2 separate regions of the Homo sapiens genome follow, and region 1 is linked to region 2. Evidence: fine-mapped expression QTL. A gene starts in region 2. The other region holds a variant in brackets. All regions are shown on one strand. Distances are from middle to middle.

What was found. PIP is the estimated chance that this variant, and not a neighbour inherited with it, causes the effect. A credible set is the group of variants that fine-mapping cannot tell apart.
Region 1: its variant is the best candidate, but not a certain one, in a credible set for the expression of SGSM3 in whole blood (TOPMed, PIP 0.63).

Annotation. Positions count from the first base shown.
Region 1 is chr22:40,415,045-40,419,559 of GRCh38, forward strand. It overlaps MRTFA (myocardin related transcription factor A), which reads right to left. Exons shown (of 15, transcript NM_020831.6): 12 at 3,330-4,340; 13 at 2,297-2,449; 14 at 1,942-2,002. Among named protein-coding and RNA genes, the nearest start is that of SGSM3, 47 kb to the left of the region's middle. RefSeq lists enhancers at 242-641, 1,347-1,846. The variant G/C (reference allele first, on the strand shown) is at 2,628.
Region 2 is chr22:40,368,823-40,372,822 of GRCh38, forward strand. SGSM3 (small G protein signaling modulator 3) reads left to right here and starts at 1,772. Exons shown (of 22, transcript NM_015705.6): 1 at 1,772-1,866. ADSL (adenylosuccinate lyase) reads left to right here. Exons shown (of 13, transcript NM_000026.4): 13 at 1-545. RefSeq lists an enhancer at 1,458-1,667 and silencers at 1,818-1,927, 1,988-2,157.

The DNA.
Region 1 (4,515 bases), 46 kb after region 2:
ACCTGCTTCTGGCATCACTGCCACCTCTTGGGCCACTTTTCAGTGTCCCTTTGGCGGCAGGCAGCACCCACACCCACCATCTCCCTTTCTCTGCCATCCCTTAGAAGCTAGAGTTCAAAGCCTGTTCCCTTTTCCTTCTTGAACAATATCTCTGGGGTAGCACCTCCTTCCCTTGGAACCTCCTGAAGCTCACGCCAAGGCCTCGCTCCTGAGCGCCCAGCCCAGCCGTCCTCACAGCGGGTCCCATACCTGCCGCCTCAGTGCCACCTGCACTGGTGAGAGATGCGCCTCAGACCCCAGGGACCCAGGGATTCTCCCTAGGGCTTGAGAATTACAGACCTCACAGGAACACCAGTGACTGAGCTCTTGTCTTAAATTGAAATAAAATTCACACAACATCACATCTACTCTGGTAGAGCTGTGGTTCCAGGCTGAGCTCCCACTTTGCCTGCACCCCTCAGCCGCTCCTCCTCCTCCTGAAGCCACTGAGACACTCAAAGAGAAGTCCACGCTCACCACCCAGCATCGGCACCACAGGCCCAGACTTCTTGCCTGCTGCCGCCAGTGAGCTCCTCCCCAGGACCATCTCGGGGTCATCTGGGATCTTCTACTCCCAGCTGGGTCCCCTCACACAGACGCGCGCTATTTCCTGCCCAGCATCTGCCCTACCTCCTTCTTCCCCTCTGCAGGGGAACCTCCCAGAGAGCTCTCTACGGCCACCCCCACCCTGCTCCCAGGCCTCTCATGGACTTCCTGTTGTGCCCATGATGCCTACCTTCCGTGTCCAGGCCTCGGTCCTCAGCTCCCTTGGTCACGGCTGGATTCCAGGACACCGCACCCTGCCACTACTTGTCCTCCCGACCCCCAAGGCTGGGCTTAGCCCCAACCTCTGCTCCCCCACCTCACACCCTCGGCAGCCTCCCAGCTCCAACTGCCAATCTAGATGTGACAACACTCCAACTCCTACCTCCAGCCCAGACCTCTCTCACAAATGCCACTTGATGTCAACTGTCCCTGTGAACCCTCCATTCGGTCTCGTGACACACCCCATCAGGGACCGCGCAATGTGGTCCCACACGTGCCCCCTCCCCAGCTCACCCCATCAATGGCCACTCCACCCTGGCCCTTTAGGCCACAGCCCTTGAAGTCATCCTTGGCTGTTCCTTCCCTCTCCCCCCACTTCATCCATAAAGACACCAACCTGGCTCTCTCCAAATGGGGCTGATTCCAGCCGCTCCTCTGCCCGCCACTGCTGCCTGCTGGGCCAAAGCCCAGCTCTCCAGTCGCCCCCCAACCTGGGGCTCCCTGCTTCTGCCCTTGCACGGCTACTATCGCCTGGGTCCTGCATCAGACCAGGCCTTTTCTGCTCAAGGCTGTGCGATGGCTTCCCACACAATGGAGCCAAAGCCACCCTGCCCTGGTGCCCAGGAGGCCACGCATGATCTGGCCATGAAGGCCTTCTTCCCCTTTCCTCAACTCCACTCCAACCCGCCAGGTACTCCCGAGGCCGCACAGATGCACACAGCTGCCCCTGCTCACAGGAGACATCCTGGACCTTCCCCACCAGGCTCCCCAGACCTCTCCCTCTCCTCCATTTTTGTCCTAAGGCTCCTCTCGGATCTTCCATATGATCTGCTTATTTCTTATATTTGTTGTCCACCTCCCCAGGCTGCACTGTGAGCTCCACAAGGGCAAATGTCTCTTCTGTTCGTTGGGAGGCGAGGGCCTTGGGGCAGTGCTTCCAGCTGAAGGACGGCACCTTCCCTGGTCCTCTCGCCCAGGCCTTGGAGACGGGAGGGCTCACAGCCACCACTGCATCCACAGTGCTTGCCCAAGACTGGTCACGCACGGAAGCATTCAATAAAAACAAACCAACCCAGGGCTAGAGACACCTATGAACAGAGAAGGCCGTCAGGGAGGCAGCAGGGGACCTGGGGTTACCTCCGCTCTGAATGAGAATGTCAAACAGGTCGTCCATCTGCTGGCTTGAGGAACCATTTTCCTGTGGGACAAAGGAAAAAAAAAAAAGAGATAAAAATCTTGAATGGGGGCTCCCAGCCCGAACTACGAATGAGGCCCCTCCCTCTGCCCCAGAATAAGCAGCCAGATCCACAGGACCCATGGGCGTGCCCGGACTCCTGGAGCCCGTCCCCTAACAACCCACTCCCCAAGGCCTCTCTGACCCTGAAGCTGGGCTTCGCCTGCCCCCTATTCCTCCGGGTGGGGCTGTAGGAGCCTCAGCCCAGCAGCCTAGGGCAGCTGCCAACACTAGCCAGGCCTAGCCCGCCTTCCTCACCTGCTGTTTGGGCTGCTGGCTCATGGCTTCCTCATAGCCAGGTGGTTCCTTCTTCAGCAGAGAAGTGGGGGTCCCAAAGAGGGGCTGCAGTGGGTGCTCCAGGTCCATCTGGGCAGAGGGGGCAGGCGCTGGAGAGCCAGGCTGGGACGAGGGCTGGACAGGAGAGCAGGGAGAGGACCAGTGGCCAGGGGGCTGGGGGTGCAGACCTGCCTTGTAGGGGGCGGGGGGCGGGGATAGGGCCAGGGCCTCTCACACTCTAGGAGGGAAGATGGGAGGCACTGGCTTTTAGGGAGCTTTCATGAAAGCCACTAGGTAGGAAGGAATACAGGAT[G/C]GGGGGCCCTCAACCCTGCAGGGGGTGCCTGGCCCCTTGAGGTTTGGGAGAGGTCTCTGGGCTGGGCTGGTCACCCCCTGAGATTTCTGCAGCTTCTTTCTCTGCTTGGGGCTGCTCAGGGACCCCTGTCTCCTATCCTGAGGTACCTGTTCCTGTCACTGTCTTCTCTACCCCCAAGTTCTGCAGGACCACGAGGCTACATAAAGCCTTAGGGCAGCCTCACCTGTGGCCTGGGCTGAGAGAGGGTCTGCTGAGGGAGCTTTCCGCTGCTGACACCTTGGTGGGGACAGCTAGCCTCTCTGAGGAGAGGACCCTGAGCTGGATCCTGGCCAGAGGACCCCACAGCCTCTCCCCGGGGCAGGCTACCTCTGACCTTCACTGGCCACTCCCCACAGAGCAGCACTAGGGCAGGCCCAGCCTGGGTACGGGCTGCTCAGGAGTCCTGCTGCTGAGGTGCCGAAATGTTCTAGTCTCAACAGCCAGAGAGGTGGGGAGCTCACCAATGGCTCCGCCCTACAGCTAGGGGGTCTGAGGCAGGTCCCTTAACTTTCCTAAGTCTCAGTACCCCCCTGGTGAAGGAAGATTAAATGAAGCAAACACAAAATGTCCAGCACGAGGGGTCCCCTGGCCCAAGAGGGCTGTAGCGAGACGCTCTTCCCACCCTCCTCTGGGCCCTGCCCGGTTCCTCCCATACCCAGGTACCTGCTGGGGGCTCCCACTGGACAGGCCAGGGCTGTCTGCATTCTTATTGGTCACGGTGAGGACAAGGTGGGTCCCTGTGGAGTCGGTGATGAGGGTGGGAGGTGCAACCCCCTTGATGAGGCTGGGGCCCTGAGGCCCCAGAAGCAACTGGGGGGCGGGGACCGGCTCGGGCTCAGGCTGCAAGGCTTCCTGCTTCACCACCACGGACGGGGGCCCCGGGGCCACAGCACAAGGGTCTATGTGGTTGGTGGCTGGGGCCGCCAGGCTGGGGTTGAATGGGTGAGCGGGGCCCAGGGGCTGCTGGCTCAGCTGGCAGCTGGAGAAGCTGTTCTCCTGCTTCACGGGGGTGCCGAGGGGGGCGGGGGCGGGGGCGGGCTGCTGGGCTCGCTTCTCCTGCTCCAGCTGCAGCTTGAGCCGCTCCACCAGCTGCTGCTTCTGCCGGAGCATGCGCGTCAGCGCCTCGATCTGCTTGTCTTTCTCCTGCAGCATCTGGTCCTTGTCGCGCCCCTCTAGCTCCGCCCGCCCCCCAGGGCTCAGGCAACAGGACCCGGCCCGGGGGCCCTCCTCCTTCACGAGGATCTGCAGTGGCGAGGCCTGCAGGGTCAGCTGCGTCAGAGGTGATGTCACCATCTCACCAAAGGTGTCCCCGGGGGTGGAGTTTTCATCGCCCGTGCTGAGCAGTGAGCGCTCCGAGGGGGTGGGAGACACGGGGGGCGTGGAGCCCGTGCTGCCAAACTTCACCACCCCACTGCTGGCCACCGTGGCCACCACCACCTCAGCTGGAGCCAGGCCTGCTGCCACCAGGGCTGGCCCCGTGCTCAGCCGGGCCGCTGGGAAGGCTACCACCACCTCGCCAGCCTTGTGCAGGATAGAGGTGGCGGCAGGGGCCTTGGGGGCTCCTGGCACAGGGCTGATTTGGTCTTGATAGGCTCGAAGGCGCTCAATCAGCTCAGTTTTGGTGCCCGAGACAGGCAGTGATCGCAACTTCAGCTCCTGCTTCAGCTCTGCCACCTGCAAGGCAGTCAAGAGTCAGGGAGGCCAGGGGCAGCTGGACACAGGGCACTGGGTCCAGGCAGAAGGGCAGTCTGGGCCCCATGGGCCACTGCAGATGCATCAACTACCCTAATCCTCCAGCAGCCTGGAGGGTGCAATGCCCCCCACCACCTGAGCCAACAGCATCCTCTCT
Region 2 (4,000 bases):
CTGAGACAGGAGAATTGCTTGAACCTGGGAGGCAGAAGTTGCAGTGAGCCAAGATCATGCCACTGTACTCCAGCCTGGGCAACGGAGCGAGACTCCATCTGAAAAAACAAAACAGAAAAAATCTTGAAAGGATACTAAGTCTGACACAAGGAAATTAAGTCATGGGACTCTGACCAGATATTCTGTCTACTTCCTTCTCTGCTATGGGCAACTTGGAGGCAGCAACTACTATCAGTTTATCTGTAATGTGAGAATTTATATTACATAACAGATACTGGGGATATAGGATACCATGGATTTTAGTTAATACATTTCCTCATAGAAAATAAGGAAATAACAGTCTTGTTCCTGTCCTAACAATTCTGTTAGACTAATGATCTCCAGTGATTGGCGATTTGACCTGGTTTCTTCCTGGACTATTTGAATGGGTGGATTTGTTGGTGCATCTCTTGTCTTCTTTCCTTTTCCATTCTCCTTTATTTTTGTATTTACATACTTGTATGCAACTTTGTAATCTGATTTTCCCATGTAACATTTTAATTTGATGGGTGGTCTGCGTGTTCACTGGAAAACATATATATATTAAATGTACATTTATGTATATATATAAAATATACATTCATATATATTATATATAATATACATTCATATATATTATATATAATATACATTCATATATCTATCTTTTATATATATATATAGACAAGATCTTGCTCTGTCGCCCAAGCTGGAGTGCAGTGGCATGACCACAGTTCACTGCAGCCTTGATTTCCTGGGCTCAAGCGATCCTCTCACCTCAGCCTCTTGAGTAGCTGGGACTATGGCACACACAACCACACGTGGTTCATTTTTTGTTGTTTTTTGTAGAGACAGGGTCTCACTCTGTTAACCCAGGCTGTTGTATTTTCTTTAAGATTGGTTTAAATTCACACGGACTCCAGCATCAGAACTACCCAGATGTCAGGTTCTGGGCAGAACTTGGGGCAACTGATGAAATGTCTGCTCAGCTGAAGTCAGACACCTGGACACTTAATGCCCTCTTTCCCTGGCTGATGCTCAGTTTCATTTAAGAACCAGGAGAGCCTGATGTTTGTAAACACAGCTTTAGTGGAAGCACGAGGGTTAGGAGTCCCTAGAAAGGTGATATGAAGCCTAGGTGGATGTGAGGGTTGGTGAGATGGGAATTGCACAGCATAGAATCTGACACAGAAGGTACTCAGAAAATTTCGTTTTCCGGCCTGGCGCGGTGGCTCACGCCTGTAATCCCAGCACTTTGGGAGGCTGAAGCGGGCAGATCATCTGAGGTCAGGAGTTCGAGACCAGCCTGGCCAACATGGTGAAACCCCGTCTCTACTAAAAATACTGTACTAAAAATACAAAAAAATTAGCTGGGCGTGGTGGCGGGCGCCTGTAATCCCAGCTACTCGGGAGGCTGAGGCAGAGAACTGATTGAACCTGGGAGGTGGAGGTTGCAGTGAGCCGAGATCACGCCACTGCACTTCAGCCTGGGTGACAGAGCGAGACTCCATCTCAAAAAAAAAAAAAAAAAAAAATTAGCAAGTTATTTGCAGCGTCTATCTCCCACCACCCTGACTGCTGGTCCACACCATACTGTCCCAAGCTTCTCAGGCTGCGGTGCAGACGAAGAAATCATCGCTATGCATGCTGGCCTTGGGATGGGGGCGCAAAGCCCCTGGACGCGCCCCGCCTAGTGGGCGGGAACGACTACAGCCCCCAGCATGACCCGCGGCCGCCCATGCCACGCCCCGCCACGCGTGCGCTTAGGCGCCGCTGAGCGCTGACTGGGTGCGAGTGGGGAAGCTGCTAACCCGACCCGGATTGGCGCTGAGGTGGCCCGTGGGGCAGGTGAGTGCGGGGCGGGAGTCAGCGGAGACCCACCGGCGCCTACAAGTTCCCCTCAGGCGGGGGCTGCGGGGCGGCTGTGGTCGGACTGTCCGACCGAGGGTCGTATGGGCCGAAGGCGCCCACGAGAGAAGCACCGCCTCGGGCCGGAGAGCCGCCGGGCCGACCTTGCTCGCGTCGCCGTTGGAATGGGGGCCGGGGACGCGGCGGGGCGGGGAGGTCGGCTGCGTCCTCCGGTGCGGCCGCCCCTAGACGGCCGAGGCCACCTCAGGTGTTCGGGGCGCCAGCCGGAATCCACCGCGCTGGCAGCCGGGAGCGGTTTTACGAAAACCGCGCCTGAGGCGGGGGGCTTTCTAAAAAGAGCCTGGCTGGCTCTGGCACCGGGACAGCTGCAGACTCCTCCTCAGGTTTAACTTGCGGTTTTCCCTTTAAGATTCAGATCCAGGTGCAGAACCCGGGCTCGGATCCAGGCCCGAGACTCGGAACACCGGTGTGTTTGCATTTTAGCACGGGGGAAACTGAGGCATACGTTAGCCAGAATCATCCGGTGTGGTTAGGACTGGAATTTTGAAAATTATTCTCATACTTAGTTTACTGACCTAGGCTCTTTTTTATTTGGAAAGAAAAATAAAGATGTTTCAAAGGTTGTTTTCAGTGACTGGGTGACTAGTGTATCTTCCAGTCTCACGCTGCACGTTTGTGGTGGGTTGATGGCTCTTTTTTGTTTTGCGGTGGGATAGAGATGTCCTGGAATGTTCTACACCTTTCTTATTCTTTCTTAGTAAATTCAAGTCAAATCAGACTCTGATTCACAAAAACTCATTTTCAACTTCGACTCGTTTACTCGTAGTTTTTGTGACAGGTTTGTGATTAGGTTTATAGGTACATATGTTTCCCGCTTTTCTTGCTCTTTTAGTTCCAATTATCTCTGCACTCTAAACAGTTGAATTACATCTTTGTTTTTACACTATTTCTGTTCTTGGTGATTAATTTGTAATTCTTCTTTTCTTTTCTTTTCTATTTTTTTTTTAAGACGGGAGTTTCGCTCTTGCCCGGGCTGGAGTGCAATGACATGATCTCGGCTCACTGCAAGCTCCGCCTCCCGGATTCAAGTGATTCTCCTGCCTCAGCCTACCGAGTAGCTGGGATTACAGGCGCCCGCCACCACGCCCGGCTAATTTGTGTATTTTTAATAGAGACGGGGTTTTTCGCCATGTTGGCCAGGCTGGTCTCGAACTCCTGACCACAGGTGATCCGCCCGTCTCGGGCCTCCCAAAGTGCTGGGATTACAGGCGTGAGCCACTGCGCCAGGCCCGATTAATTTGTAATTCTATAGATATCTTTCCTGGCTTTTGATAATCCTAAGTGAATGTAGCTTTTTCATCCCTAATTATCATAGTAGCCTGAGCTTTAGTTCTTCTCCCTGTCCCCCCCCCCTTTTTTTTTTTTTTTTTTTTTTGAGACGGAGTCTCGCTCTGTTGCCCAGGCTGGAGTGCAGTGGCGCGATCTCGGCTCACTGCAAGCTCTGCCTCCCGGGTTCACGCCATTCTCCTGCCTCAGCCTCCCGAGTAGCTGGGACTATAGGTGCCCGCCACCACACCCGGATAATTTTTTGTATTTTTAGTAGAGACGGGGTTTCACCGTGTTAGCCAGATGGTCTCGATCTCCTGACCTCGTGATCTGCCCGCCTCGGCCTCCCAAAGTGCTGGGATTACAGGCGTGAGCCACCGTGCCTGGCCCTCCCTGTCCCTTTTTAAGCGTGGAGGTGTGTGGTCTGGGAGGGGAGAGGGTGAGGTGTCTATTGATCAGATATGGGTAATAGGTTAACATAACCCATGACCAGAACATTAAAAGGCTGTAAACAAACAATTGCTTCAATATAAAAACGCATACCTCGTGAATTTGGAAACATGTCAGGTTGATAGAAAAGTGAACTCGGGTAGAACCTCACAGAAATGAACCCGACATTAGGGTGAAATATTGAGAAGGGAAGGGAGGAGATAATCATCTCTTTTATTTTACAGCCATCTTTCTATGCCTGGAGTGGATGTAGGAACAGCCTGCTGGCTCAGAAGCTTAAAAAAAGCTCTGTGTGTTTTCAGTTTTTCTCTTCTTAGTTCTCAATGAAGGTTTTGGC